Linked DNA regions of Homo sapiens. The protein of the gene in region 1 interacts with the protein of each later gene in a biochemical or structural test. Each region holds a gene or a part of one and is shown on either strand. Other genes may lie near its edges.

The links. Proteins that work in one complex are often made in the same cells at the same time.
Region 2: the proteins of UBE2D3 (region 1) and SIAH1 form a complex in vitro, tested with the Homo sapiens proteins (3 studies listed by BioGRID).

What each region holds. Positions count from the first base shown.
Region 1 is NC_000004.12:102,807,052-102,810,551, forward strand, and holds part of UBE2D3 (ubiquitin-conjugating enzyme E2 D3), read right to left. Parts: intron 2,805-3,500; coding exon 2,741-2,804; intron 2,653-2,740; coding exon 2,621-2,652; intron 1-2,620. UniProt on the Homo sapiens protein: Accepts ubiquitin from the E1 complex and catalyzes its covalent attachment to other proteins. In vitro catalyzes 'Lys-11'-, as well as 'Lys-48'-linked polyubiquitination.
Region 2 is NC_000016.10:48,361,414-48,364,913, reverse strand, and holds part of SIAH1 (E3 ubiquitin-protein ligase SIAH1), read left to right. Parts: intron 1-1,910; exon of another isoform or gene 1,911-2,483; coding exon of another isoform or gene 2,484-2,485; coding exon 2,486-3,334; coding exon of another isoform or gene 3,335-3,437; 3' UTR 3,438-3,500. Other genes in the region: LONP2 (lon protease homolog 2, peroxisomal), read right to left, coding at 3,318-3,437. UniProt on the Homo sapiens protein: E3 ubiquitin-protein ligase that mediates ubiquitination and subsequent proteasomal degradation of target proteins.

The sequences.
Region 1 (3,500 bases):
AAACTCAAAATTAGATGGTATATTCCCTACAGTCAGGAATCTTCAGTTCTGTGGCACTGGCACCACTTTAAGGGACCTAAGTAGTAGTCCAAAGCAAAAGTGACGTTGTTAACTGTCCAGTTCTCCCACTAAATCTGTAATTTATGGGTTGCTTTAGGTCACAACTGCTTGCTACATAGAGCAACCATACTCACAAAATAAGCTACTATTTATCTTATACAGTGATGCTTTGTCACAAAGAAGTATTGAGAAGCCAAAAGAACAAAATGAGTTGTTTCATTGGTGCACTCCACAGTAAGCATATAGTTAACTATTTAAAGCTGGCATCTAAATTATGTGCTTACTTATGTACAAGACAATACCCGTACTTTGGGTGGATTTTTATAATCTTTGACTCCTTCTTGAAATTTACCCAACCAACAGTGAGAACTAACCTTTTTAACTGAAAACATATTTCAGTGAGTACTGCTACCAAAGCAAAACCCAGCAGTTGTGGTTAATCAGGTTAATATTTAAATGGTTCTGAAAATCACATGCTTCTGTTTGTAAAAGCAGAAAACTGCTAGTCATTATATTAAAAGGTTGCTGAAAAAGTTCAGCAAGGAATAGCCATCACCTGAAATATATATTTAAAAAATGAAAAAAGGTAAATGTTTTCTCAAAATAACAGCAAATTAAGTAAACTGCTAAAAAATCTGTCAGAATAAGCAACACCATTCTCTAAAAAAATTACTACCATACACTCATCATTCATGTTTCCTTTTGATTGTCTATAGGTATGTTCCTTGCCTTTTGGGAAAAACTAGTGTGTTGTTCAAAATAACAAAGTCTAAACTGTCAAGCAGAAAAACCAACTAGTTTTAAAGAGTTAGTTTATTCTGCACACCATCCAATTAGAAGTTTTAATTACCAACGCTTCTGTGCTTTCTTAGTATTGACAATTTTTATAATGAAACTATCAACTACCCTCTGAATCAAAGATGAGCTTTATTTTAAGGCATTTTATAGCATTCTTTGAAAACTGGTAATCCAAAATGGGAAAATTCTAGAGGTTGCAAAAGCAACTGCTTTACAAAACACTAGGCAGATAATATGGAATTGACCTAGTAGGCACTGTGGTAAACACATATCCCATCTAAAAAAGGGAGGCAGCTGTCATTCCATCCCAAGCCATTACTGCTTATGGAATGTGGGCCTACTCAGAAGGCTTTTATTTGAAGACTGCCAACTTTCAAAAATATCGTGTGGGCCAAACTGGGTAACTCAACATTTAACTGCGTGTATTAAAATTAAACAATATTGCTACCAAATTAGATAAAAGTAAGTACTTTTAATAACTACAAAGCCAGGATTGTGCATTTCGTTATTACAGGACTATTTTTACTGTTTTAAATGTTACTTTGTTTTAAAATGATCCAGGACGTTTCAAAGTATTAAACTTAATATTTGCACCCCTGCCATGTCTTACTTTGATTTAGTTTTTCTACCTTTAGGGCACTAACATTTTAATTACTCTAAATTAATCCTCCCTGCTTCAATTTCCCATTAATTTATCCTACTCAGCACTTCATTCACCAATCACTTATTTTCCATCTTGTCACACTTCAGCACTTGTTTTAGGTATCTGTCTCCTCTAATACAGTGTAAGTTCCCTATAAGATCGACAGGGATGTTTATTATGTTCAATTTGTATCCTTATTACCTGGCACACAGTATGTACTCACATTTGAGACAGAAAAATGACTAAAGTTAGAATCAGAATTACTAAATAAATACTTGTTGATTCGACTCATCTACTAACTCTAAGAGCATTTTTTCCTTTAGAATTCTAAATATTACTTACTGACCATTATCTCACCTAGTACATTATTGCTCTTTATGTTGCTTATAAAACCACCAAAAAGGGAAGACAGTTTTCAGGAAGATACACATGTAACTTAGAAAACAAATCCTTAAGCGCCTTAGCAAGTTAAAAAAAAAAAAAAAGTTAAATATTTGTGTAAGATACAGTCTTACCCCAGGATGTTTTAGTGCGCTCTAATTCTCTGAAATTCTTAGATGGTATCCATAATTCTGAATATTCAATTATCCAGCATATAGTTGCTTATCTACCCAGGATAGAAAGGAATTTTGCTATATTCAAAATATCACTTTCTGCCTAAATATATTCAAATTTTGCATAAACTGAAGTTCTATAAAGAATCAAATATCAAAATACAATTAAGCTAGATTATTGGCAGCTGCAGTAACAGAATAAGATCTCTGAGTAACACAACGCATGGCATATCAGAGCCAGTAACTTTGTCTCTATAAATAACAGGAAGTTCCATGACAATGCTTTACACAGTGCTATGTAGAAAAACTGAACTGAGATACAGAGATGTTTGGTAGGTCATAGAGATGGCTATACTCTAGAACGTGAACACAGGGATAGACACAAAGTACACGTAACAAATGACTAACTCATTATGTTTTTTCTTTCAAATGCAGTACAACTATGGAATATCCAAAATAGAATTAACTATATGATAAAATAAACCTACAGACCAAGTTAAAAATTACAACCAAATCAATGCTGGATTTTCACTTAAAACTAAATTTAAAAATTCTTAATACTTACAGGTCCCATAATTGTGGCTTGCCAATGAAACACTAGAAAAAGAAAAAAAACTCTGGTTATCTAAAAATGCACAAGCTTAAAAAAAAATTAGGCATAAAAATCAACTTGCAAGTTACTTACTATCATCCCCAACTGGACCTGCAGAACATTGTGCTGGAGGGTCACGGGCCAAATCACTAAGTTCCTACACCAAGACAGAAAATGGGTGAGTCACATAAGCTTAATTTAAGAAAACAAGCAAATGAGTCCACTGCTTTCAGTTACTTTCACCCTATTTTTAAAGGCACACTCCATCACAATTCACATAAATAATATATTCCATTAGGAGAGAGAACATGCCTGAACATATGCTGAGACAATCATCTTAGCTAGAGTTCGTAAAAATATATATGCAAACACATTGATACAAAATTTTTTATTTACATAAAAGCCAATCTCTTACAAACCGAAATAGCTATAATTAGATATTCTCATAGTTTAAGAGCTTAGACCAGAGAGAGCTCAACATTCACGTTATTTGTTGAACTTCCAAGACCACTTTCAGAGGCCCTCAACTGTCTTAAATTCTTTGTTCTTCCTGAACCATCCTTCCTCCCCAATCCACTAACTCTATTTTCTACCTGAAAACAAACCAAAAAAACTCTCATGGGGCTAAGTACCTTTTTTGTTTTCTAATCTCCTTATTCTCTCAACTCAACCTTTTTTTTTTTTTTTAAACTCAGCATCCATTTTTAACTATTGAAATTTTTTTTTTTTTTGAGACGGAGTCTCCAGGCTGCAGTGCAGTGGCGCAATCTGGGGTCACTGCAAGCTCCACCTCCCAGGTTCACGCCATTCTCCTGCCTCAGGTGCCCGCCACCATGCCAGGCTAATTTTTTGT
Region 2 (3,500 bases), on another chromosome or scaffold:
TTGTGAACAACAGTGTTTTGCTTGGTCCGTAGCTATATTGTGTTAAATATAAACTGAGTTTACTGCCCTTGGATGTGATTCTTTGGTTTGATTTAGTAATTTGAAAGGCATTGGTTGACTAGACTGTTTTTTGCCCAAGGAACCACTTTGTAATTGTTACGCTGCTTACTGAAGTAAACTGGACCATGCAGTAGGCATACAGCATACAGCCAGGGTGTTTTGGCAATGCTGAGCCCACTGTTTTACAAGTGACATAAAATGGATGTCATATGTACAAAGAATCTACTGAGAGGGAAACTGGATTACAGGAGAGCTCCCTTATAGTCCTTTGTCAGGGGACAGAATACCTGGGTCACACTGGGCTTCAGATTGAGAGTTGATTCATGTTCTGAGTCCATATGATGAGACACATTACGATGGAATTGTCACTTTTGTTGCCTCTGGAACTTTAAAATACCCGTTTAGTGACGTGGAATTAATCTTTATTTTTTCCGTCACCCTCAGCCCTCATTTAAGCTATCAGTTGGTAACCACTTGGGTAATCTAAACCTAAGTTGCATTTATTTGGTCACATTGGTAACCAACATTGCTTCTTAAAAGTTCCTTGCAACAGAATGACTATAATTGAGATAAAACATTAATTTTGAGGCTTTAATTTTGTAATATGGATTAGTGGCCGGGCGCAGTGGCTCATGCCTGTAATCCCAGCACTTTGGGAGGCCGAGGCGGGTGGATCACGAGGTCAGGAGTTCGAGACCAGCCATGGTGAAACCCCGTCTCTACTAAAAATACAAAAATTAGTCGGGCATGGTGGCGGGCCCCTGTAATCCCAGCTACTTGGGAGGCTGAGGCAGGAGAATTGCTTGAACCTGGGAGGCAGAGGTTGCAGTGAGCCGAGATCGCGCCATTGCACTCCAGCCTGGGCAACGAGCAAAACTCCATCTCAAAAAAAAAAAAAAAAAAAAAAAAAAAAGATTATGGCTTAGTAGAGTTACTAGGAGTGCAGTCTTAGGACATTGACTGATCTTTTTTTTCACCCCCAAGACAAATAGTGGCCTGCCATTTTCCAGCCCAGGTAGCTTCCTGGGAAAAGTTGCTTGTTTTATCTTTGACTCAGCCTGGCTAGTTACATTGTCGATTATTTCTTCCAGATGATATTTACCTGTTAAATAATGTTTATTACTCTGCTGATGAATGTTTTCAGCAACGCTGGAGAACCCTAGGCTGCAAGGGGTTCTTCACCTGTTGACTCCATCCCCCACCCCCAGTATGGCATATATCTCTGCCGTGCTATCATCTTTATTCTTTCCTTTTTCATTGTCTCTTCCTGACTGTCCTCCTTTGTTCATTATGTCTGACACATATTGTGGATTGAAAGTAGAACAGAAAGATATACTTTCTCTACCAGACTAAAAAGTTTTGAGATGGCCCTCCATTTCTCCCATGCCTCACTTCACCTTAGTTGTGTTTTTATTTATTTTTATATTTTCGCCACCTTCACTAGCGAGTACATCCCCTCACTCTTGAGGTGGGCACTGATCAGTAGGAAATAAGATTAATACCTGGCTGGTGATAATTTGGGGGGAAGACTTAATTAGATAGAGATGGATAATGGGATGGCAGCAGACCTTTCCCCTTGTGACCCTTCCCCTCATTTCCAAAATACACCTCTAGAGTAGATAATTGCTTACCATTAAGAAGAGTTAATGGAAGGTGATACTCTGATTCTTTGGCATTGGAACTACATTCAATCCGCGGTATCCTCGGATTAGTTCTAGGACCCCCTTCTCCATACCAAAACCTGAGGATGCTCAAGTCCCTGATAGAAAATGGTGTCATATTTGTATGTGCATATTCTCTTGTATAATTTAAGTGATCTCTGGATTACTTAATACAATGTAAACAATATGTAAATAGTTGTTATAGACTGTATTTTAAAAATTTTGTATTCTTTATAAATTTTTCTGAATATTTTCAATCCATGGCTGGTGAAGTCCTCGGATGCAGACCGTGTGGATACAGAGTGCCGATTTTATACAGGAGTTCACCTGTAACTCCCTGTACCTATCAACAGCTGACTCCAAATTAGAAAGAAATAGAGTAAGGGAGCCTCAGGGAGAGTCCTAGCAAAACGGATTCGATTAAACTTCAGTTCCTTGTATAGTTTCTTTAGTTGTTTATGGTCCATTTTCTATTTTAGCATTTATTATTCTATGTAGTCTATCCAAAGACGATTAAGGGAGTTCCACATGTTTTCCGGAACATTTTGAAAAGAGAGCTTATCCAGTGTACAGATCCTAATAAAGTGCACATTCAGTGTAATTTTATTTTTTTAATATCTTTTTTAATCCTATTTTTCTTCCTCTTTTGCTCAGTAAATTTTGTATGAAACTTTAAAAGGACTTATGGCATGTAAACATTATTTATAAAGTAAGTCATGGTTATAATTATTTTTCTCCTGCCTCCTTATGTATTTATTTCAGAAATGAGCCGTCAGACTGCTACAGCATTACCTACCGGTACCTCGAAGTGTCCACCATCCCAGAGGGTGCCTGCCCTGACTGGCACAACTGCATCCAACAATGACTTGGCGAGTCTTTTTGAGTGTCCAGTCTGCTTTGACTATGTGTTACCGCCCATTCTTCAATGTCAGAGTGGCCATCTTGTTTGTAGCAACTGTCGCCCAAAGCTCACATGTTGTCCAACTTGCCGGGGCCCTTTGGGATCCATTCGCAACTTGGCTATGGAGAAAGTGGCTAATTCAGTACTTTTCCCCTGTAAATATGCGTCTTCTGGATGTGAAATAACTCTGCCACACACAGAAAAAGCAGACCATGAAGAGCTCTGTGAGTTTAGGCCTTATTCCTGTCCGTGCCCTGGTGCTTCCTGTAAATGGCAAGGCTCTCTGGATGCTGTAATGCCCCATCTGATGCATCAGCATAAGTCCATTACAACCCTACAGGGAGAGGATATAGTTTTTCTTGCTACAGACATTAATCTTCCTGGTGCTGTTGACTGGGTGATGATGCAGTCCTGTTTTGGCTTTCACTTCATGTTAGTCTTAGAGAAACAGGAAAAATACGATGGTCACCAGCAGTTCTTCGCAATCGTACAGCTGATAGGAACACGCAAGCAAGCTGAAAATTTTGCTTACCGACTTGAGCTAAATGGTCATAGGCGACGATTGACTTGGGAAGCGACTCCTCGATCTATTCATGAAGGAATTGCAACAGCCATTATGAATAGCGACTGTCTAGTCTTTGACACCAGCATTGCACAGCTTTTTGCAGAAAATGGCAATTTAGGCATCAATGTAACTATTTCCATGTGTTGAAATGGCAATCAAACATTTTCTGGCCAGTGTTTAAAACTTCAGTTTCACAGAAAATAAGGCACCCATCTGTCTGCCAACCTAAAACTCTTTCGGTAGGTGGAAGCTAGACACATGAAGGTAAATAAAAAGAAAGGCTGTTAAATACAGGAAACAGTTGCATGTAGTA